Regions from separate parts of the Homo sapiens genome. Here regions 1 and 3 are each linked to region 2. The links come from fine-mapping of genetic effects on plasma protein levels. A gene starts in region 2. Each other region holds a variant in brackets. All regions are shown on one strand. Distances are between the middles of the regions. Region 1 overlaps CPA4 (carboxypeptidase A4). Region 2 holds the start of CPA4 (carboxypeptidase A4). Region 3 holds the start of LOC124901837 (small nucleolar RNA U13).

Region 1 (8,000 bases), 15 kb after region 2:
AATTTCCAAATATTTCTAACAGATTCAAGACTGTATTGGCAAAGAGGTAGAGAGCTATGATAATGACATAAATTACATAAAAATCCAGTTGAATGAATAAGAAGGAATTTGGGCGTATAACCCATGGAACACCAATGGTGCTAAGAATTTGCCAAACCCTCAGCTTCGTATAAGTCCCAAAGAACTCAGGCTTATAGCACTAAGCAAATTACCAGTGGGAGAGGAGACCTGCCACGGAGCTGGATAATTACATTTAAATATTTTTGCCAATCTGTTGGAGACCCTGGCTTCATTAGCACCAAGCTCTGACCCAAGGGGGCCCAACACTATGGCAAAGGCAGGAGCCAGGATTCATGGCTGCCATTTACAAAGAGCTATAGCGAGCCCCCCTTCTTCTTAGTTTAAAACCAAATTCATTTATCATGTCGACCGAAACAGCCTGGTTTGTGTACCCTTATGTCTCTCGCTGTTGGGATACCATTTGAGGTCTTTCAAGAGACATAACATTATCTCTAATGGCACCGGCATCATAAAACACAGTAACGGTTGTTTCCCCTCCCATTTGCTCCTAATGCTGGAGAGGTTCAGGCTGCCTGGAGCTGCAGCTTGGCCCCGCAGCCAACCAATTAAGCTTCCAAGTCACGGATAAGCTCGATAAATAGATGGTGCCCTTAGGAACATTTGATCTCTGAATTATCTTAAATGAATTAAATGAATGGGAGAGAGCTGGAGAGAGGAGAAGTGAGCAGAGATGCGGGCAGGCGGTCATTTTCGAGCCTTTTCTCCCTTCTGCAGTTCAGCACTGGGAAAGGCGTGAGGCGGCCGGCCGTTTGGCTGAATGCAGGCATCCATTCCCGAGAGTGGATCTCCCAGGCCACTGCAATCTGGACGGCAAGGAAGGTCATGCTGCGTGGTATTAGCCAGGAATGCTGATGGTGCCGGGGTGCCCCTGCAGCATGCCATGTGGCTGGGCCTGGGGCACGAGGTGGGAGGGTTCTCTACTAAGACCCAGTCGGCTGGGGGGCCTTTTCAGATTGGAGAAGCAAATGGTCAAAACCCCTTGGTCAGCTCACTGCGGCCAAATTGATTGCGTTCCTGGTGGTGCACAAGCTGATATGCAGCAGAGGTGGGCCTGAGCCTCTGAGAGCAGTCCACTCCGCAGAAAGGGAGCAGAGCAACACCCAGACAAGGCCCCATAGACCCTCGGGGACCTCACGCCATCTCCATCTCCTAGAAAGGCTGCTGGGAGGGCAGCAGGAGGCTGAGGCAGGAGAATCCCTTGAACCCAGGAGGCGGAGGTTGCGTTGAGCCAAGATCACGCCACTGCACTCCAGCCTGGGCAACAGAGCAAGACTCTGTCTTAAAAAAAGAAAGAAAGAAAGTCTGCTGGGAGGGGAGGAGGGGTGCATGTGGAGGACACATCTTCCTTCCCTCTTCATTGGAGGTTCAAATTCCTAAAAACTATTACAATGTGTGGCTCCCTCCTCCTGGAAGGAAGGAATAAAGCACGTACCCCAGGACTCACTGCAGTTGATGCCATTAGCAGCCATGTCCCCAAGCAGCCGTGTCTCTCCAGGCTTTGAAGGGCTCAGAGGGCTTTGCAGAGAGCAGAGCCTCTGAGGGTGGCAGGGAGGCTTTTGAGGGTGGATGCTGTTCTAGGAGCATTCATTCTAGCTGGTTGCTGGGCATCTTGAGAAGATACATGGTTCAGCCCTAATGGCCCATCCTGCCATGGGATAGCTGACAAGCATATTGTCTCTGCTTAGATTGTATCTGATTACCAGAGGGATCCAGCTATCACCTCCATCTTGGAGAAAATGGATATTTTCTTGTTGCCTGTGGCCAATCCTGATGGATATGTGTATACTCAAACTCAAGTGAGTATTCCCAAATGGGCTGGGCTTGCAGACTGTTGAATTCCTTGCTTTGCCACTAATTGTCTGATCTTGGAGAGAATTTCCACAAATGTGCACCTTATGAGCTTCCTTGGGATTTCATCTTCTAGTCATCCTCAGAGCTGAGAATCACCAGGGGATATTTCTTCTTAGAGAAAATAGTCTAATGAACTCCCTATCATGAGTCTTAACAATGACCAACATTTTACAAATCTTTTCATCTCTTGCCCTCCCACACATTTTTTCGTGACGTATTTAAAACATATTCAACACATTATGTTATTTCACCCTAAACTACTTTAGTACGCATCTCTAACTGACGATAGAAAAAAAAAAATTAAAAAACCCTATGGCACTACTATCACTTTTAAAGGAATAATGGAAGTTCTTTAATATCATCTAACACCCCCGATTACCTTAAAAATGGAGGCCGAGGCCAGGCGCGGTGGCTCACACCTGTAATCCCAGCACTTTGGGAGGCCGAGGTGGGCGGATCATGAGGTCAGGAGATCGAGACCATCCTGGCTAACATGGTGAAACCACATCTCTATTAAAAATACAAACAAATTGGCTGGGTGTGGTGGTGGGTGCCTGTAGTCCCAGCTACTTGGGAAGCTGAGGCAGGAGAATGACGTGAACCCGGGAGGCGGAGCTTGCAGTGAGCCGAGATGGCGCCACTGCTCCAGCCTGGGCGACAGGGCAAGACTCCATCTCAGAAAAAAAAAAAAAAAAAAGTGTTTTTAAGAGTCAATTTGTTCAAGTGAGGACCCAGCAAGGTCTGCGCATGCACCTGGTGCTGTGTCTCTGCAGCCTCTTTTATTCTACAGCAGCTCCCACACACACCTTTTAAAAGTCTCACTCATTTAGGGGAGAAGCCAAGTAATTTGTCTTGTACAGTGTCTCACATTCTGAATTTGGCTGATGGCTTCTTTGTTATGCCATTTAGTTTGTTCCTTTATCCCCTGTATTTCCTGTTCATAGATTGCCAGGTCTAGAGCTTGATTGGATTCAGGGGAATTTTTTAGGCAAGCAAGAAACAGGGGCTGTGCGCTTCCAGCTACATCTATTATCACCGAGGCATATAGTGTCCATTTGCCCACTTCTGCCAAAGCCAAAAATTATTCAGTGGATTCAGGCAGTATCTGACTGGTTCTAGCATATAAAGGTCTCATCAGTACATTTGGAAGAAGTCCTTCTCTTAGAGCCGGAAGGGGAAATACTCCTCTCTCTGCAGGAGGAGAGACAACTGCTCAATGAGGACTAGGAGCCCCAGGGCCCTCCTGGCAGAACTGCAAGCAGCCTGCCCTGCCTGCGTGTCATCTCCACCCTAGCCCTCTTCGGTGATCTGATCTGCCTCTGGTTGTTTGTCCCCTCCTTGGTGGCTTTTTCAGAACCGATTATGGAGGAAGACGCGGTCCCGAAATCCTGGAAGCTCCTGCATTGGTGCTGACCCAAATAGAAACTG[G/A]AACGCTAGTTTTGCAGGTAGGCGGTGGGGAGACAGTTCTCAAATCCTGCTGTCCCTGGGCTCGCCTGGTCTACCAGTGCTCTGAGCTGGCCGGGACGGAGCGCGTTTCCACTTTGGTTCCGTTGCTGCGTCACTGAGAGACTGAGGAGCACTCCTTAGGCTCTGACTTAGTGTTTTGTTTGTTGTTGCTGTTTTGAGATGGAATCTCACTCTGTCACCCAGGCTGGAGTGCAGTGGCGTGATCTTGGCTCACCGCGACCTCTGCCTCCTGGGTTCAAGTGATTCTCCTGCCTTAGCCTCCTGAGTAGCTGGGACTGCAGGTGCACGCCACCACGCCCGGCTATTTTTTTTCAGTAGAGATGGGGTTTCACCATGTTGGCCAGGATGGTTTTGATCTCCTGACCTCATGATCCACCTGCTTCAGCCTTCCAAAGTGCTGGGAGTATAGCCGTAAGCCACCTAGCCCAGCCTTTTTTTTTTTTTTTGAGACAGAGTCTTGCTCCATCGCCCAGGCTGGAGTGCAGTGGCAGGATCTTGGCTCACTCTCACTGCAACCTCCGCCTCCCGGGTTCAAGTGATTCTCCTGCCTCAGCCTCCTGGGATGACAGGTGCATGCCACCATGCCCAGCTAATTTTTGTATTTTTAGTAGAGACAGGGTTTTGCCATGTTGGCCAGGCTGGTCTTGAACTCCTGAACTCAGGTCATCTGCCCGCCTCAGCCTCCCAAAGTGCTGGGATTACAGGCATGAGCCATCGCATCCGGACTGTTTGTTGTTTTTTAAAATATATTTTTGTGATTTTGAAAGGGAATGATAGTGATGTCTGTCTTCCCGAGAGAATGGTGGGACAGAGCATCTTACATTGAGATTGCCATCTATGCTAATATTTTAAAAACACTCTCTTCTAAGACATACAAAACGGGGAACCTTCACCCCTGACCCTACCAGCCCTGCCTGGGCAAGTTGTGAGCAGGCGGAAGGACTCCTGGCAGCAACTCAGAAGAGAGGAATTAGCACTGTCACCCCAAAGGGCAAGACTGTGCTGTGAAAATTCCACTCCAGTACCCTTAGATGTGTAGATATGAACCTTAGCAGCTGGCTGTCATGGAAAGGGAAAGAGAATTAGGAGACCTGGGCTCTGAGTGCCAGCGATTTAAAAACCACCCTCCACAGAAGTGCCGACTGTGTACTAAGTACCTTCCGGTATTTATCATATTTATTCTTCTCACCTAGCGAGTGAATTTTATGATCTGAAATGAGACGGTGGAAGCTCAGAGACAATCTCAAGATGACATGGGTGAACAGAGTTCTGATCTAAACTCAGCTTCCAATTTCAAATCCAGACAGTTCTCTTTCACTGTCCCATGGCTGTACTGATGGGTTGTTTGTTTGTTTTGTTTTGTTGAGACACGGTCGTGCTCTGTCATCCAGGCTGGAGTGCAGTGGCGTGATCATGGCTCACTGCAGCCTCGACATCCTGGATTTAAGCAATCCTCCCACCTCAGCCTCCCTGGTAGCTGGGACTATAGGCGCATGCCACAATGCCGAGCTAAGTTTTGTATTTTTTTGTGAAGATGGGGTTTTGCCATGTTGCCCAGACTGGTCTTGAACTTCTGGGCTTAAGTGATCCTTCCACCTCAGCCTCTCAAAGTGCTGGGATTATAGACATGAGGCACTGTGCCCGGCCCCGATGGTTTGTTTTTAATGTGCTTCTTTTACTTGTATAGAAATACCACACAAACCATTGGGGGAAAATAATGACTGTGGGAAAGGAACTGATACAAATGTGGGAACTCAGAGCTTCAAAGTTAAGTCAGATATTCCCACCACTGGGGTGGTTTCAGTCACATTCATACACACACACACGCACACACACACGTATGCACGTGTGCACACACACACCCTAGAAACCCGAGGGAACTATATTATGAAGTAATACAGAAGGCAGTGTTTCTAAATACCTGTCAAATAATCAAGAGATTTTAGCCACAACAATTGATTATTTCTGGCACACTTGGCCTTTAAGATCTCAACCAGAGAATAAGTTGACACCAGAATAAATGGAGTCATTTTCATTATTTATTGGTATTCATATTAATTATCTAGTCTACTTATTAATTACAACTCATTCTCAAGGGTGATATTAATTATTTATGACAACTGCTATTGGTACAAGGCAAGGTCAACTCCAACAGTTTTTCTCCTCAGCTGTAGCAGACCCAACACCCAACCCTCCCTCTTCCATGCCTTCTCTGCAGTCCACACCCACCATGGACTAGGTGCTCTGGGCCGTCTCGCCATGGCCTGCCCATTCCCAATACCTTCGGCCCCTCTCTAGGTGGAGCGTCTTGCATTTCTGTGTTCTTGGACTATGAGTTAATGTTTGTTCTTGGGCTATCCCCAACAGGAAAGGGAGCCAGCGACAACCCTTGCTCCGAAGTGTACCATGGACCCCACGCCAATTCGGAAGTGGAGGTGAAATCAGTGGTAGATTTCATCCAAAAACATGGGAATTTCAAGGGCTTCATCGACCTGCACAGCTACTCGCAGCTGCTGATGTATCCATATGGGTACTCAGTCAAAAAGGCCCCAGATGCCGAGGAACTCGTGAGTCACAGCTGCCTCCCACCCAGCCTGGGGCCCGCCTGACCCTCCTGGCGCTGCTAAGGTGGTAGCTCTGCAGCTTTATAGGGAGGGTCCAGGAGCCTAGGCATGTTTCATTGAAGGTCCAATCTTCTCTCCCTGCCCTTTGGGATATGCTGTCATCTGCTGGGGACAGGAAAACAGTGCCCTTTATTTCTGTGTCTGCTATGAGTTCCCAGAACCGTGCCTGCCCCGCCTTTCCGTCTCCCTTGTTTTTCTGACTGCCATGTATTGTGGACCCACTGCTTGCCAAGGACTGTGGGTGGCACCTGGGTGGGCAAGGGGGAGAGATCCTCACTCTAGTGAAAGAAGAGTTTAAGGAGGGCGAAGGCCACAGCCTGGGGTGCTCTGTGTCTCATCCAGAACGTGGGCCATCAGGAGCAGGCCTGGCATCTGGAGGGTGACTGCAGGTGGCTGCCCAGGCTCACAGCCAGCCCTTAAACCTCAGGCAGATGCAGCCCCTCCCAGGCTCACGGCAAAGTGCGGGCTTGATTCTGCTCCCCCACCCCCACCCGGCCTCTCAGGCAGGCACTCTACACAGGGATCATCCACCTATGGCGGTCCTTCTCCTCCTCCACTCTGCAACACCCAACTCTTTGAGAGCTTTCTCTTGAGCATATTTGGCCCTCCCTCATGTGTGCATGACGTCTCCCTTCTCAGGATAGGTGAAGACGGTGGTGCCTTTACTAGATTCCTAGTGGGTCAGTGAGCAGCCCCAGAACCCCCATCTCTTCCAATCTGAGTACATAATGCACAGGCTTCCACTTCCCTCCTCATCTCCTCCCCCAAACTGGGAGTCAAGAACTGGGGGTGTGGTGGGAGAAGGAGTTGAAGGAACCATGCCACCTCCCTCAGTTTACAGTTGGGCCTTGGCACTGGGCGAAGGGGAAACAAGGGACCAGAAAGGAAATCGGGGGGGGCTGAGAATCTTCCAAACCATCCCAGAGCAGAGCAGCTGAGGAAGGTCAAGCTTCAGGATCGATTTTTTCTCACTCCACGGATTCCCCCTTCCCAGGACAAGGTGGCGAGGCTTGCGGCCAAAGCTCTGGCTTCTGTGTCGGGCACTGAGTACCAAGTGGGTCCCACCTGCACCACTGTCTGTAAGTACTCGCTTATTTATGAGTTATTTAGAAAGCACTTTGAGAGGAAACTTGAAATGGAGTGGGAGGAGGGCTGTAAGTTAGACTTACTTGTCATCTGATTGTTTTTGTTGTTGGTAATAGACTGAACTACATCATGCCTGTGTGGTGACAGCTGTTGCATGCAGTCCCCTTCATCAACATCATATCAAAAATTCCTCATGCCCATCCCTTCATTTTCAAGGGAAACCCACCTTTCAGTTGGTAAACTGATGGTGGTAGTGGAGTTGGGGGAGACTCCCTCATCTTCCTAAAGGAGATGGACAAACATTGAGCCTGGACAACATAGCAAGACCCCATCTGATATGGTTTGGCTGTGTCCCCACCCAGCTCTCATCTTGAATTCCCACATGTTGTGGGAGGGACCTGGTGGGAGGTAATTGAATCATGGGGGCAGGTCTTTCCTGTGCTGTTCTCATGATAGTGAGTAAATCTCATGAGATCTGATGGTTATTATAAGGAGGAGTTTTCCAGCACAAGCCCTCTTCTTGTAAGAGTTAAAGAAAGAGGAAAGAAACACAAAAAGCAGCTTAGCAGTCAAAGACAGGTTTATTCTGGGAATAAACCTGAGAGGGGCTTCTGGCTGATTTCAGTCAGGAGTGTTCTGTCTTAGAGACTAAGGGTATTTAAGGGTTTAGGGAGGGGGAGCTTATCGCAGGCTCAGAATGTTTCTGTGTGAAGGAGAGTTTTATTTCCTGGGTTGGAATATCTCTGATCAGAGCGGAGATTGTCTTGGGGTTGGCATGTTTCTGGTTGGAGGGGAGGTTTATCTTAGAGTTGGAATGTTCCTGGTCACGCTGACATTACCCACTAGGCTGATGTTTGGGGCTAGTTTTTAATCAAGGGGAACTTAAAATGG
Region 2 (8,000 bases):
GTTGGGTTGTGTTGTTTATTTTTCTAAGCCTGATCTGGCAGCACCGTTTCTCCAGTTTCTGCTGCCCTCAAACACAACAAGTCATGGCATTGTACCCCTTCATCTTTTAGAAAATCCATCCTGGGGCCAGGCGTGGTGGCTCACCTGAAATCCCAGCACTTTGGGAGGCTGAGGTGGGACGACTGCTTGAGCCCAGGAGTTTGAGATCAGCCTGGGCAACATGGGGAGACCCCATCTCTAAAAAGAATAATATTAAAAAAAAAAATCCATCCGGAGCAGAGTGCTCCCAACATCATTTGACAGTTTTTGTTTTTGTTTTCCTTTTGAGACAGAGTCTCACTCTGTCACCCAGGCTGGAGTGCAATGGCGCGATCTCGGCTCACTGCAACTTCTGCCTCCCAGGTTCAAGCAATTCTCCTGCCTCAGCCTCTCAAGTAGCTGGGATTACAGGCACCTGCCACCATGCCTGGCTAATTTTTGTAGTTTTAGTAGAGACAGGGTTTCACCATTTTGGCCAGGCTGGTCTTGAACTCCTGACCTGAAGTGATCCACTCGCCTCGGCCTCCCAAAGTGCTGGGATTACAGGCGTGAGCCACCGTGCCTGGCCCCATTTGACAGTTTTTTATTGTGTTAAATTATACACAAAACTTACAATTTTGACCATTTTTAAGTGTACAATTCATTGGCATTAAGTACATTCACAACGTTATGCCACCATCACCATCATCCATCTCCAGAACTTTCCTATCATCCCAGACTGAAACTCTTCCCCATTAAACCATAACTCCCCATTCCTCTTGCCCTTCAGCCCCTGGCAACTACTAGCTACTTTCTGTCTCTACGAATTAGCCTATTCTAGGTATTTCGTATAAGCGGAATTAAACAGTATTTGCCCTTTTGTGGCTAGCATTTTTTTTTTTTTTTTTGGTTAATATAATGTTTTCAAGGTTCATCCATGGTGTAGCATGTGTCACTGCTTCATCGTAAGAGTGTAGCATTTTAGGGCTAGCAATGGACTTTCAAGTTCATGTATTCAATAAATACTCATGAAGCAACTGCACTGTGCCAGGCCTCGTGCCAGGTGCTATACCTGGTTCCATTGTTGCCTTTGGTTTTTCCTTTCCTGGTGTGCTGCTTTATGAAGACTTGTGGGGCAGGGCATGGTGACTCAGGCCCGTGATCTCAGCACTTTGGAAGGCTGAGGTGGGAGGATCAGGAGTTTGAGATCAGCCTGAGCAACACAGTGAGACCCCGTCTGTACAAAAACAAAACAAAGCACCCGTCATGGTGGCAAACATCTTTAGTCTCAGCTGCTTGGGAGGCTAAGTTGGGAGGATCACTCGAGCCCAAGAGTTTGAGACTTCAGTGAGCTATGGTCGCACCACTGTACTCCAGCCTGGTCGACAGAGTGAAACTCTGTCTCAAAAAAAACAAACACACAAATGGTGGGGACCCAAGCCAATGACATTCCTTTTTCCTGGTTGCCCTATCAAGCCTCGGTCTCAGGTTGCACACAGTTTCTCTTTAGATATTGACTCCCATTAGGGATTTAGGTTTTCTTCATGTGGATGATTTTCCCTGGGAGAAAAGGTAGGAACTAAATTTCAGCTTGCCTAGAATGCTTGGTCCTTGATTCTCCCACTTCACATCTCTTACAGATTTGGGTCTCAGTTGTTCTTGTTGCTGACTTCAAAGCTGACATCGATCTCAGTGACGCTGAGCCCACGCTTTGTGGTGGACAGGGTGGGTGTAGGAATTCAGTTGAAGTGTTGAGAGGACAAAAGGACCCTGAGGGAGCAAGAGGAGATGATGGCCCCTAGCTCCACAGCTCCTAACAAAGGCTCTCTCTGGGACCACACTTGAGATTCTGCACCCTCCTTTTGATTAGGCTGGTTCTTGAGCCCTGGCTAAGCCAGCCTGAGCAAAGATCCTGCGAAGTCATCCCTCCCACCTTGATATCTGATCAAGTTCCTCATCCCCACCTTTGATGGGGACTTTGATGTATAAGTCCTTGGCCTGCTTTTAGCAAGAATCCCCCTACCTTGATGTCTTCTCTTAGTAATCCCACTGATCCTCTCTGTTTTCTTTGCCGTATTCAGTGTTAAGCACAGTAAGTCTTTCCTACTGAAATAGCCATGGTCCTAATCATAATAATCTTGAATTAGGTCTTACATTTTAACACAGGTCAGGATAGTTTTTCTTTAACTCTCTCAACTATGACCCTTGGTTGTGTCCACTCCCTTTGAGTGGGTGTGGAAAGCATGTAGACCGTAGGGAGGGTGGGATGGGAAAGGCTGTGGGAACTGGGGCTCCCAGGACAGACTCAAAGGTCCCAGAGCCCCTGAAGGCGTTATGGAGATATGAGTGTCTTCCATTTATTCAGCTGTGACTTGGCGGAAAGGACACCAGACCCACAGTCTAGGAAGTATAAGAAAATCTTATTATTTATTTATTTATTTATTTGAGATGGAGTCTCACTCTGTCGCCCAGGCTGGAGTGCAGTGGTGCGATCTCGGCTCACTGCAAGCTCCGCCTCCCAGGTTCACGCCATTCTCCTGAGTAGCTGGGACTACAGGCGTCCGCCACCACGCCCGGCTAATTTTTTGTATTTTTAGTAGAGACGAGGTTTCACTGTGATAGCCAGGATGGTCTCAATCTCCTGACCTCGTGATCCGCCCACCTCGGCCTCCCAAAGTGCTAGGATTACAGGCATGAGCCACCTCGCCCGGCTGAAAATCTTATTATTGATAAAACCATTAAGCCTTCCCCATAGATCAGACCCCAAGGAACACTGATAATTTATTCAGACTAAAACATCCTTTCTATATCATTTGCCTGATACATTTCTATTTCCTTAGTGGAGTCAGAAGAATTAGGCTTCAGATACATAAAAGAGGCCCCAAACCTCTTTCCTCATCCTGACCTGCCCTGGTGAAATTCTCTGGCAGGGCTTGTCAAGCATGTGGTCTTGGAGCCAGCTCAGTCTTGCTTTGATAGTCTTAACTTTTTTATTATTATTCTAGAGGTAATTCTATGCCAGGTTTATAATCTGACCTCTCCTATCAGGATAAATTCCATCCAACACTGTGGAATTAGCTTATTCACTGAAAAAACACTATTTAAATGCCAAGTGATGAGCAATATGGTACCCTTGGCACAGACTTTTTCAGCTCCTGGAGCAAGTTCCTGACCTTGTAAATTGAGATGCTCAACCTTTATCACTTGAAAGGAATGGGAGAGGCATTGGTAGGGCCTGCCTGTCACAGTCAGAGTTGCAAGGGTGCTTGGGAATCACATTAGCATTTTTGAGGACTTGAGTCACTCTCAGACTCTTTATAAATACAGCTTGACTCAGCCACTGTATGACTGACTCCCCGGGGACATGAGGTGGATACTGTTCATTGGGGCCCTTATTGGGTCCAGCATCTGTGGCCAAGAAAAATTTTTTGGGTAAGTTCCTTTTGGACTTATTATTTGGTTATTTCAGAAATATGGGAGCCAAATGGAACTGAAAATGAATGGCTGATAATAGCTCACATGGAGGAAGAAGACCTGGGCTCTTGTTCCAGCTTTGCCCCTGTGTCATCCTGGACAAGTCCACTCTCTTCTCTGAGACCCCATTTCATCTGTGAAATCAGGACTAGATGATCATTGCAGTCTCTCCCCAGCTCCCTCATCTCCTGCCAGTTCTTTTTCTGCCTAGTTCTTACTTATAAGGTCAGTTCCAGGCATCTACTTTCTTACTCCTACCTTATTAATTACTAAGAGTTACTGGTTACTAAGAGCTACGTTATTAATTACTAAGAGTTACTGGTTACCAGAAATGGTTTGTTTCCAATTTCCGCCATGCATAAAGGGAAACCCTGGGTCTCAAGCTTGTTGGTTTCACTTCTTTGTTAATGGCGAAGGCTTTGCAGAGCTGGTGCCTTCTCTTGATCTGCAGTTTAATGCTCTACCCCTGAGCTACACCCTCTTCTGAGCTGGTGCTTTCTTACTGGCTTCTGGGACGTGGAGATTTCACAGGTCTTGCCTAGACACAGCTATGAAAATGACATGCAGAGACACATGCCTGAACACCGTGTGTGTGTGCGCGTGTGTGTGTGCACACACACACGTGCTCAACACGCTCCATGCAGAATACTTTGAGGTTTGCAGGGGAGAGGACATTTGGGTGGTAGGAGAGATAAAAGGGATACCATGGTGCCCTGTTAGAAGACTGAATTATAATAACTCATTACTGCATAATACTTTACCATTTGCAAAGAGCTTTCATGTACATTATCTTTTTGATCACACAACAACTTTGCCAGGCAGGGGTGTTATTTTCTTCCACTTAAACATGAAAAAAATCAGCCTTAGAATGTTAAGGAACGCGCTCAAGGCCACTTAGCTGGGAAGCAGGGGAGCTGGAACTCTGAACGTAAAACTCGTACCCTTTTGCTATAACACAAGTTCATCTCCAAATAAAATCCTATATCTCTTGGATCTGTCTCTTAGTTTTCTTTCTATTTTACTATCTGGCTAATGAGACTTTGGGGTTGTTTTTTGAGGTAATTACTTATATGAGATTGACTAAGTTTTATGATGATGACTTCTGTTCACACCTGTGTCTCTGTTGCCAAATAGCTCAGAGGGGTTAGGAGTGGCAGGTGGCCAGGGAAGATTTTCCCACAGGCGGCTCAGCAGTAGGTGTGTAGTGACTAGACTTGCTGCCGTGTGGGCTGACGCATGGAACTGTCAGGCTCCCACTGCAGCTATTCATGTGGCTGAAAAATCTCTATTTCGCAAGATACAGACCTCTCTTGCAATGTGGTGGGCACCTGGGCTGCGACAGCTGGGCCAGGCCCTAGAATGCTCTCTGCAGGAATTTTGCACAGAAAAAGCTGTGTGCCTGAGCTGACTGCAGATGGTTTGAACTGATAGTGTCATTCTCATCCCCAAATCCATTCTCACGCCATAGTAGGAAACCTAGCAAAGGTAGTGGAATTCTTCCTGGGCTCTCTAGAGGTGTCCCAGACACCCAGCTTTTAGAGCAAGGGGAACATTTAGAGCAAGGGGAAGCTGGCCTCTGAGCATTCAAGTGGTTGGGAAGCCAGGCTCTGGATTGGCTGCTGAAGATGAGGATGATGGTTTCTCCCCACCACCCACCACCCATTCCCCTCCCTTCCATCTGCCTCACCTATCTCCCCAGTCTCTCTTGCTCTACTGGAGTCTTCTGCCCTGGTCTTCAGAGATCTTCAGGATGGGACAATGGCCAGGATGCCTAGAGGCACCAGGCAGGCAGAGAACAGGAACCAGTTGCAGAGCTGGTTACAGCATCAACAGTAGCTGGCAGGCATCTAAGAGTTCTATGAAACCATCTCTTAATATTCTTTGTGGTGGCTGCTAAGCCTGGCTAGGGAGGCAGATGAGAAAGGCACAAAGGACGGGCCACTTGGCTGTCAGCATGGTGAAAGGGGAGGGATAGATGCTCAGTCACCAAAGTGGGTATTGACTGTCCAAAGCACAGACTCCTGTGAGGGTGAGGGAGTGGGAGTGCCAGCCATTGCAATGGCAGCAGCTGGACGCCCTGTCTATTGGAGAGGATCAAGTTAAGAGGAGCTGTGAGAACACCTGTGTGGAGCAGGAGGGGCAGACATGGCCACCTGTGAATCCCAACACGTCCCCCTCCCAGGCCAATTTCCATCTTCAGAAAGAGCTCAAGGTCTTTGAGTGAATTTCTGGATAGTGGAGATAGGATGTGCTCCACCATCTTGAGCCTCATGAACTGACGAGGGCATTTTTCAAATACAGACAAGGACAGTGAGGGCAAGAAAAAGGCTGCCCTTCGCATTGCACCCCGCAATGTCCTCCCTCCTTTCAGGTGTTGCTGTGCTTCTGTTCATAAGGATAATGCTACCGCTGGGTGCAGTGGCTCACACCTGTAATCCCAGCACTTTGGGAGGCTGAGGCAGGTGGATCACCTGAGGTCGGGAGTTCGAGACCAGCCTGACCAACATAGAGAAACCCCGCCTCTACTAAAAATACAAAATTAGCTGGGCGTGGAGGTGCATGCCTGCAATCCCAGCTACTTGGGAGGCTGAGGCAGGAGAATCACTTGAACCCCGGAGGCGGAGATTGCAGTGAGCTGAGATCGTGCTATTGCACTCCAGCCTGGGCAAGGCAACAAGAGCAAAAACTCCATCTGAAAAAAAAGGATAATGCTACCCACTACCACAACCGCCAATGTTCAGCACTATCTGAAGACTGTTAGGACTTTGCTTCCTCTGGTCAGGAAAAGCTTCATGGGTGATGTGAGTTGGTCCTAAAGATTAGATGGGACTAGATGGGCCTGACAGATGAGAAAAAGGATGGATTGCAGGCAGTGGGAACAGCGTGTACAAAAGCATACAAAAGTACGCGGTGAGTTTGGGCTGGGTCCGAGATGGGGCAGAAGGGAGAGGTGAAGAAGAGACAGATGGAACGGGCTTCACTCGGCACCCGCTCTTCTGCCCTGCCGCTTTGCATGCTACAGATATTTTGTTGACCTCTGTAGCTTGGCTGATTAGAGCAGGATGAAATGGGTTTGTGGATTTAATCATCCTCAGGGCCAGTCAGAGACACGGTGTCCCATTGTCCTGGGACTGCGCCCAGGAATGTCTACAAGTTCTGTTGTGAAGTCACCACTTTGGAAAAACTAAAACGCATGTGTTGGGTGAATGCGTAACATGATTTTCATACTCAAAGAGCTTCTTATTCTTATGTCCTCCTTTTTTCTCCTCCTGTCCCTTCTTTCTCCTTTTCCTCTTTGTGATTGCTGTAGCCAGTGCTGCATTTTACACACGCTTAACTGTGCTAATAAATATGTCACCACACAAGATCTTTCTAGCAGCTCCCCTCACTTTTTTTTTTTTTTTTTTTTTTTTTGAGACAGGGTCTTGTTCTGTCAACCAGACTGGAGTGCGGTGATGCAATCATAGCTCACTGCAGCTTTTGAACTCCTGGGCTCAAGCAATCCTCCTGCCTTAGCCTCCCAAGTATAGAATCCCCACTTTAAAGATACCCCCTCTTTGGAGTGTTGGAGGTAGGTTATGATAGAGCGTGAGTTCAGCGGACGGGCCCTTGTCCCCATCCAGGAGTAAAGATTTCCTTTCTGTTTTTTAAATTTATTTATTTTTAATTTTAGTTTTTTGAGATGGGAGTCTTGCTCTATTGCCCAGGTTAGAGTGCAGAGGTGTGATCATAGCTCACTGCAGCGTTGAACTCCTGGGCTCCAGCGATCCTCCTGCCTCAGCCTCCTGAGTAGCTGGCCTACAGGTGTGAACCACCACGCCCAGCTAATTGTTTTTCATTTTTTTGTAGAGGCAAAGTCTCACTATTTTGTCCAGGATGATCTTGACCTCCTGGCCTCAAGCAATCCTCTCACCTTGGTTTCCTGAAGCACTGGGATCACAAGTGTGAGCCACGGTGCCTGGCTCCATTCTGTCTTACATCGGTCCCTTTTTTTCAATGGTGCTTGCCGAGGTCAGGGAACGATCAGGTTTGATGCCTCATCTTCCCAGGGCGGTAGGTCCAACTCTTGGCAAGCCTGTTGGGTTCAGACTGAGACCTGCCCACCCAGTGGTATCTCTTCAGGGCCCTCGGCAGTGCCCACAGGGTGCAGTTACCCGCTGACCTCCAGGACCCTTTGGGGACCAGGTGGGTTGGGAGAAAGGGAACCTTCAGCACTGTCATCTCCTCCAGACCAGCCACCTGCAGCAGGAGTGGCTCTGCAGTGGACCTTGACTCCTTAAGTCTGGCCTAGACCCACTGGAGAGCCCCTAGAACCTTCCAGAACCCAGCAAAACCCTGAAGAGCCATCTGGATGAAACCGGTTTTCTGATGAGGAGCTGCCCCATGAGGCTGCACACTCAGCTCCCTGTGACAGCCATTCACTCTCAACAGGTCCTTGAGCCCACAGCGGCTCTCTTTGCATTCACTTGTGTCAAAGAGATGACACAGTGACAACATCGAGTGAGGAT
Region 3 (8,292 bases), 47 kb after region 2:
GGTGGCTCACGCCTGTAATCCCAACACTGGGAGGCTGAGGCGGGCAGGATCACCTAAGGTCAGGAGTTCGTAGACCAGCCTGACCAACATGGAGAAACTCCGTCTCTACTAAAAAATACAAAATTAGCCAGGCATGGTGGCGCATGCCTGTAATCCCAGCTACTCTGGACGCTGAGGCAGGAGAATCGCTTGAACCCAAGAGGCGGAGGTTGCGGTGAGCTGAGATCGTGCCATTGCACTCCAGCCTGGGCAACAAGAGCGCAACCCTATCTCAAAAAAAAAAAAAAAAAGTGAACTTTGATCAAAAAGTGGTAAAACTTTTGCCCACTTTTTCCCAACCAGACATGAGGTTACAGAGGCAGAACCTTGCTCATAGTGGTGCTCAGTAAATAGCCTTTCGCTCCATAATACATAGCTTTCAAGGACAGTGAAATTCTGCAACATCTATCAACGTGAATTTAAATAAATTTTAATTTTAAAAATCAGATTGTGCCATCCAGCACTATGTGAGAGAAGAGGTACTTATAGAAACAAAGGCACGGTGGTGTGCAAGTTTACAAAATAAACTGATGTAAGAACTCTAGGCAGAATTCTTCAGATTTTTTTATCCTGCACTCCTATAATTTTTTAAAAATCTGGCTTGTCACACCCAACATATGTAATTATATATTTATAAATTCTGTACAAATGCCACTGTACTCATATTATATATTTTATAAAACATAAAAATTAAAATAAAAAGGACAGAATAAAAATATAGCTTATAAGTCTTAATAGTTTCTTCCTTTACCCCCTGGTAGGAATGAATGCCTCACTTTGGAAATCACTGGATTTGATTGAAAATGCTTCTAATTCTCGACTCCGACTTACCTTGAGCTGTCTAATAGATCTGAATAATCTCATAAATGAATGCCTGCCTCTTTAAGTAGACCGGATAGACAAACTATGGCCCGCAGATCAAATCTAGCCTCCATAGCCTCCAAGCTAAGAATGGTTTTTACATTTTTAAATGTAAAAAGACTCTTTAGGCTGGGCACAGTGGCTCGTGCCTGTAACCCCAACACTTTGGAAGGCTGAGGTGGGAGATAGCTTGAGCCAGGAGTTCAAGACCAGCTTGGGCAACGTAGCAAAACCCTGTCTCTATGAATTTTTTTTTTTTTTAATTAAAGAAAAAAACAGACTCTTCAGTGAGAACAGTTGCTCTATCTTACCTTCTGGACCCCAAAGCCTAAAATATTTATTTTTTGGCCCTTTCCAGAAAAAAATTTGTTGGCCCCTGGACAGGGAAAGCATGTGGGTCACCTTTACCTTTCCTCTACATGGTGAGGCCTTTGGAAGCTCTGCACAGGGCTGTAAATGTGGCTCTCCAGGCCCAAGGGGCTGGCCTTGGCTGCAGCTGCATCCCTTCCTTGGCCTGTAGGTTACCAACCTACTGTCTCACTGGGAGCAGGCCCTCAGCCTGTGCTCTTGGGCACCTCATGGTGGTCATTAGCTAGGTCCCAGATGACCAGGCATTAGACACCCACCCAGGGAGCCCGCAGCCCCAGCCCACTTCCTCCCAGTATCTCTGAGGTTTGGCAAGTGACATGTCCTGGCCAGCCGTTCCATAGCTCTTGCTGCCCTGTGGCTGGTCGGGGGGTGTCTGGCCTCCATCCAAACACCCAGCTAGTGGGGAAGGGGTGGTGTAGTACAGTTGAGAGGAGGCCAGCTGGGTGCCCGGATGGAGACAGCCAAGTGGCGGAGGGTTGCCCAAGAGTCTATCTTCAGCTGCTGGGCCTACATCTGGGCAGGGGCGTACGTCCTGGGGGAGGGGGAGGCAAGACCTTGGTGTTAGAGGCCTGCATTTGAGGATGACGCCAGGGGAGGTAGGTCCCTGGTTGTGGGGTGTGAGAGTGAGGTCCAGTAACAAAACATGGGGAGCAGCTCAGAGCAAAGGTTTAGGAGCTCTGGGCTGACGGAGGCACAGCTGAGCGGAGCAGGCAAGGGTGAAGGTCCTGGATGTGAAGGATTGTTCCCCTAAGATTTGGGGAGTCATTGGAATGAGTAAATCAACAAATCAGTCAACAAATAGGTCCTGGGCAGTGGCCTGGCTATACAAAGGGTTTCTGGGATGGTGCAAATGAATATGACACAGCCCCAGCCCACGAAGACTTTGTTTTGAGTTTGCAGATGCCTGTAAAGAATTAGAATCTATGGTGTGTGATGGAGGCACAAGGCATGATTAGCTAAACTGGGGAGATGTGGTCAGTAGGCTCAGGTTCCCTGTGGTGGGTGGCCCCAGACTGGGATTTTGCATGAGAAAGTAAATTTCAAACCTCTAATCCAGAGCGGCATTAACCTACCTTTTAGGCCTTCCATTGTTTTCTTGGATTTTTAATATTCCATTTCCTGAAAGCGCCTGCTTGGCATATTCCTGAAAGGTGGGATAAGCCTGTTTTTTTGTTAATTAAATCACATTTTGAGTGCACTAGGGGAGATTTCATTTTAAGAAACAGTGGCAAATCCTCTCAATAATCAAAGAATCCTTTTAGAAAGGGAACGATGATGCTCCTGTTGTTCTTTTTTTAAAGATTACACTCGATGTATTTATTTTCCTAAAACACTCAAAGGGGACTTTTGGAGACTAAAACATAATTTAGTTTGGAAGTTTTGTTTGCAGATGTTGGAGCACCTCATTCGATCTCTGGAGACCCCCAGGGTGGTCCCCAGCCAGACATGGGAATTAATACCTTCAACAAGGAAGGGATTCAGGGCTAGAATGAGATTTCCTGCAATCTCCCCATCACGCTTAGTCGAGTTAACTCCTTCACATCTTACCTAACTCAGCTCAAATGTTACTGTTTGGCTGGGTTTTTTTAGCTTTAATTTTGTGTAATGTGATAAAATATACATAACATAAAATGTACCATTTTGTTTTTAAGTGTAGCGTTCAGTGGCATTAAGTATATCTACACTGCTGTGCAACCATTACCACCACCCATCTCCAGGACTTTTTCCTCTTCCTAAACTGAAACTATATCCTCATTAAATAACTTCCCATTTGCCCATTGGCAACCACCATTCTGCTTGCTGTCTCTATAAGCTGGACTACTCTAGGTATTAAATGCCACTTTTACAACTTCTCTTTAATTTAAAGGGTTACACAGCACATCATATGAAGAGTCAGAGTTCTACAAGACTTGTTATAAAAAGCAACAGAGTCCTGCTCCTCGCTTTCGTGCCAGGTCTTGCTCTCTGGCAATAACCACATTGAGTTCTTCTAGCCTTGATGCTCAACATTCACAAGACTAGGTAAAGTGCTTACATTGCTACTTCTTGATTTTTCAGTTTTGGGCATTTTGGATTGATTCTCACTATAAAAAGTAAATTAACTGCCCCATATTTCCTTTAAAATATGTTTTATTGTGAAGTATATCATACGTACAAGATCCTGTATAAAACTTCAGTGGCTGTTAAAAATAAAATTAACAGCCGGGCGCGGTGGATCACACCTGTAATCCTAGCACTTTGGGAGGCGGAGGCAGGCAGATCACTTGAGGTCAGGAGTTCAAGACCAGCCTAGCCAACATGGTGAAACCCCATCTCTACTAAAAATACAAAATTAGCCAGGTGTGGTGGCAGGTGCCTGTAATCCCAGCTACTAGGAGGCTGAGGCAGGAGAATCGCTTGAACTTGGGAGGCAGAGGTTGCAGTGAGCCAAGATCACACCACTGCACTCCAGCCTGGGTGATGGAGTGAGATTCTGTCTCCAAAAAAAAAAAAAAAATTAAATTAACACTCTTACCCTATCATTCAGCTTAAGAACAAGAATGTAACATTATTCGAGTAGCCTGCACATGCCCCTCAAATGTACTCCCTTTCCTTTTCTAGACAAAACCAGTAATCATGCTAATAATTTTCTTTCTTTTCCTTATAATTACCGCATATGGACATATTCCTAAACAATATACTGTTTTGTGGATGTATATAAATGGAAACACAGTGCGTTCTGACTTGGCTTCTTTCGCTCAACATTACATTTTTTGAGGTTCAACCATGTGGATGCATGGCGCTGTAGCTGACTCCTTTTCTCTGCTCTTTGTATTCTGTTGTATGACGTCTCCATTCATTCAGCCAATCTTGTGCATATGTTCTGGTGACATGTGCAAGAGTTTCTCTCTTTTTTTTTTTTTTTTTTTTTTTGAGACAGGGTCTCACTCTGTCACCCAGGCTGGAGTACAGTAGTGCGATGACAGCTCACTGCAGCCTCTACCTCCCAGGTGCAGGTCATCCTCCCACCTCAGCCTCCGAAGTAGCTGGGACCACAGGAGCACACCGTCACACCTGGCTAATTTTAACTTTTTGTAGAGATGGGGTCTCACTCTGTCACCCAGGTTGGAGCACAGTGGCGTGATGACATTGAGTTTTCTTATTTAAGAATAGAGTATACTGTTAGATTCGTTTGGAATGTTAGCATTTTCCAATAGTTTTATAATTGTCTCCAGGAAGTATGGAGGCAAAAGCAACTCCATCTTAGATGCTAATCTGCCATGTTGACTTCTGGTTGCCCCCCGATCGGGGAAGGCCTTGGGATTTCCAGTTCGTTGTTCCTTGAGTGGAGTATGTGCTTGCCATGAATCCTGCCCTGGGGTTGGTACAGGCTTGATGCTATCACCCTTCAAAGGTCCTACACATCCCTTTGGAGTTATCCTGTCCCTATGGTGTATGGGCCATGGGTCTCGGCGGTAATGGTGCAGGAATCCACCAGCTTGTCTCACCAACACCTGAGACACAGACATGGCTTCTGCTTGTAAGTCCCTATTAAGTGTTTCTTTCTAAAAAACAGATTTGTCAGCCTCTTTCTTGGACCTCTCAGCTTCCTAAGACTTTGGGGGCAGGTTTGCATATACCTGCTTACTTCAGAACAGGGAGGATTGCACATTGCTTGTTAGAATTATTCCTGATTTTTTTTTTAAGAAGGGGTGTCCCAAGTAGCTGAGACCACAGGTGCATGCCACCATGCCTGGCTAACTTATTTCTATTTTTTTGTAGGGACAGGGTCTCCCTATGTTGCCTGGGCTGGTCTTGAACTGCTGTCCTCAAGTGATCGTCCCTCCTTGGCCTCCCAAATTGTTGGGATTACAGGCACGAGACACTGCACGTGGCTATATGCTTTCTTTTATTAGTATTTACTTGGAATATCTTTTTTCCATCCTTGACTTTGAGTCTCTCTTTCTTCTTATGTTTTAAGAGTGCCTCTTGTGAAACCATATAGCTAGTATTTTTTTCTTTTTTTTTTTGAGACAGTCTTGCTCTGTCGCCCAGATTGGAGTGCCGTGGCATGATCTTGGCTCACTGCAACCCCCGCCTCCTGGGTTCAAGCAATTCTCCCACCTCAGCCTCCCGAGTAGCTGGGATGACTCCCACCACCATGCCCAGCTAATTTTTGTATTTTTAGTGGAGTTTGAAAGTTATGTGCACTGGGCCTATTCTTCTAGTTGTTGCTCTAGCTATTTGAACACGCATATTTACCAAAATCTAAAAAATTATCAATATCTCTCCTTTCTCCCAATAATTCCAGGACCTTAAAGACACTTTAACTCTGATGACCCACTTGCAGATAACATGCTATTCTTGTCCAGGACTTAAAACTTTGGTGTTAGATGATGCCGGGGAAAATATTTCCTGAGATTTCATAACCACAAGTAAGCCCCCGACATGAATTTGTGGTTTAAGTTTATGCTAACTATGCAGTCCCCCAAAAAAATCTTAAATTATTTAATTTAGAGTGGTCGCAGGTTGGTAGTGTCCCCAGCAACTTACAGAAGTAAACGCAAATCTTTTCTGGAAGAACCCACCTTCAACCCAGGCCTCAAGGGATTCTCACAGATAAATGTTCAAGGAAAATGATTGGTTCACAGGTATGTGGCATGAGAGAAAATGCACCATGAGTGAGAACCAGCGGAAAGAATAGGCAGCAGAAACAGACTTAAAACATCTAGGAATTGTAATTATCTAACACAGAATATAAAATATCTGTCTTATACGTTTAAAGAAATAAGAAATTCTAAAATAGATAAGAAATTCAAGTCATTTGGGCTTGAATCAGAAAAAAAGAATCAAATAGAACTTCCAAAAATGAAAAATGAATATCATATTGCATTGACTATAAAACAGGATCAATTTTATAAGATGCACCATAATTTTATGTGCCACCTTAGCATTGCAAGATGCCACCAATTGTAAGATGTATCCTGATTTTAGCAGTGTTAAAAATGTGAAAAAAATAGGTTGCAGAATCAATGAACCGTAGCAATTGAAAGGTAAAACTTCACAGATCAATTAAATTGCAGATTAAACTCAGCCAATGAAGAATCAGGTAACTGGAATAAAGACAAAAATATTTTTTACTAATAAATTATCCAGAATGTAGCCCAGAGAGACCACACAATGGAAATATAGCAGAATGCTTATGAGTCTTGGGGGCTAGAATGAGGAGGTCCAGTCAAAAGTTCCAGATGAAGGTAATAGAGAGGAAAAGGGGCAATGTTTAAAAATATAATGGCTGAGAAATTTGGAAAATAATAGAAAGCGAGTGACACTCAGATACAGGAATTCAAATGATTCTCAAGCAAGACAAAACAAAAAAAATCCATACCTGGACTTACGATGATAAAACTGTGGAACATCAAAAGCAAAGAGAAGCTCTTCAAAGAAACCAGGAACAAAGAGAGGTCACCTTCTGAAGAACAGTAAGTCAACAAACATTACCTTTTAGCAGCAAAAATGGAAGCCAGAAGACTGTGGGATAATATTTTCAATGTGTTGAGAGGAAAACAGTAATCAACTTGGAATTTCTATCCCAAAAAACCCTTTCAAGAATGAGAGCAAAATAATTCTTTCTTTCTTTCTTTCTTTTT[CTCTT/C]TCTTTCTTTCTTTCTTCTTCTTTCTTTCTTTCTTCCTTCCTTCCTTCTTCTTTCTTCTTTTCTTTCTTTTTCTTTCCTTCTTTCTTCTCTTTCTTTCTTTCTTTCTTTCTCTTTTTTCTTTCTTCTTTCTTTATTCTTTTTTTTCCTTTCTTTCTCTTTCCCTCTCTCCTTTCTTTTTTTTTCTGTCTGTCCTTCCTTCCTTCCTTCCTTCCTCGCTCCCTCCCTCTCTCCCTCCCTCCCTCTCTTCCTCCCTCCCTCCCTTCCTTATTTCTTTTCTTTTTCTTTTTTTCTTTTTTTTTTTTTTGAGATAGGTTTTTGTTCTGTCACCCAGGCTGGAGTATGGTTCTCTGCAGCCTCAAAGTCCTGGGCTCAGTTGATCTGCTTGCTTGCTTCCCGAGTAGCTAGGACTACAGATGCGTGCCTCACCATGCCCAGCTAATTTTATTTTATTTTTGCAGAGATAGGGTCTCCCTGACTTGCCCAGGCTGGTCTCGGACTCCTGGGCTCAAGCGAACTCCTGGGCTCCTCCTGCCTTGGCCTCCCAAAGCACTGGGATTACAGATGTGAGCTGCCATACCTGGCCAAAAATTTTCAAATAAGTAAAAACAGAAACCTTAACTAAAGGAAGGTTTGAAAAGATAGATTTGAAGCAGAGGGAAGATGATTCTAGATACATGGTACATGCATCCAGTAGGAAAATCAAGAACACCAGCATTCTGAGAAGTTCTCTGAGGCAAAACTTGCTTACCACTTGGGTGTCTGTCTGGCTTTTCCTTCTTTTTGGGATCTATAGATTCTTATTTTTGTGCCAACCCAGCAATGGCTTTAGAAAGTTGTTACTAAAAATATTTTCTTCTGCATTTGAGTTCTTTCATTTGGGCAAGATTGCTTAGGTATCTAACCCACCCCACCTGCAGGAAATAAAAGTCCTCCAAAAAAATTTCTAATTTAGGGAAACTCTCCTTCAGTCTATGTGGAGCCCATGTTCCCCGTCCTCATGGTACAATGTGCCTTTCCCTTGTAACACAAACACCATCTATAGTTTTACACTTATCTGGAGTGAGATGGGCTACCATTATGTCTTGGGTTTACCAATTATCTTCATGCTATTTAAATTAATTTTCTACTTACGCCTTTAGAAATGTAAGGGCCAGATATGTGTTGCTTTCTATTTTGTTTCCAGACTTTAGCAAGTGCCTGGAACATAGCAGGTATTCAGAGGACATTTACTGAGTAAATGATTAGGTGAGTAATTAATTATAAGTGAAAAGCCAAAATGAGGTATTAGGTCAAGCATAGCTATGTGTCTCCGCTTCAAATCCAGCCATAAGCTGATAATTGCAGTTCATAAGTATGATAATTGGGTGCTCACGCATGCGTGTGTGAGA

The links. PIP is the posterior inclusion probability: the model's chance that the variant is causal. The UK Biobank Pharma Proteomics Project read protein levels with antibody pairs (Olink). The fine-mapping took linkage between variants from a reference panel, not from the people measured, so its PIPs are less certain.
Region 1: its variant is fine-mapped to the plasma level of the CPA4 protein (UK Biobank, PIP above 0.99). The variant lies in the coding sequence of CPA4. If it changes the protein, the assay may bind it differently, which can mimic a change of level.
Region 3: its variant is fine-mapped to the plasma level of the CPA4 protein (UK Biobank, PIP above 0.99).

Annotation. Positions count from the first base shown.
Region 1 is chr7:130,305,021-130,313,020 of GRCh38, forward strand. CPA4 (carboxypeptidase A4) reads left to right here. Exons shown (of 11, transcript NM_016352.4): 6 at 796-900; 7 at 1,767-1,877; 8 at 3,287-3,377; 9 at 5,767-5,966; 10 at 7,018-7,102. Among named protein-coding and RNA genes, the nearest start is that of CPA4, 16 kb to the left of the region's middle. The variant G/A (reference allele first, on the strand shown) is at 3,361.
Region 2 is chr7:130,289,799-130,297,798 of GRCh38, forward strand. It overlaps CPA4 (carboxypeptidase A4), which reads left to right and starts at 3,363. Exons shown (of 11, transcript NM_016352.4): 1 at 3,363-3,450. The coding sequence starts at 3,383. RefSeq lists enhancers at 3,768-3,857, 7,668-8,000.
Region 3 is chr7:130,336,177-130,344,468 of GRCh38, forward strand. All of the region lies in intron 1 of LOC105375503 (a long non-coding RNA gene), which reads right to left. LOC124901837 (small nucleolar RNA U13) reads left to right here and starts at 8,239; the gene lies at 8,239-8,292. The variant CTCTT/C (reference allele first, on the strand shown) is at 6,900.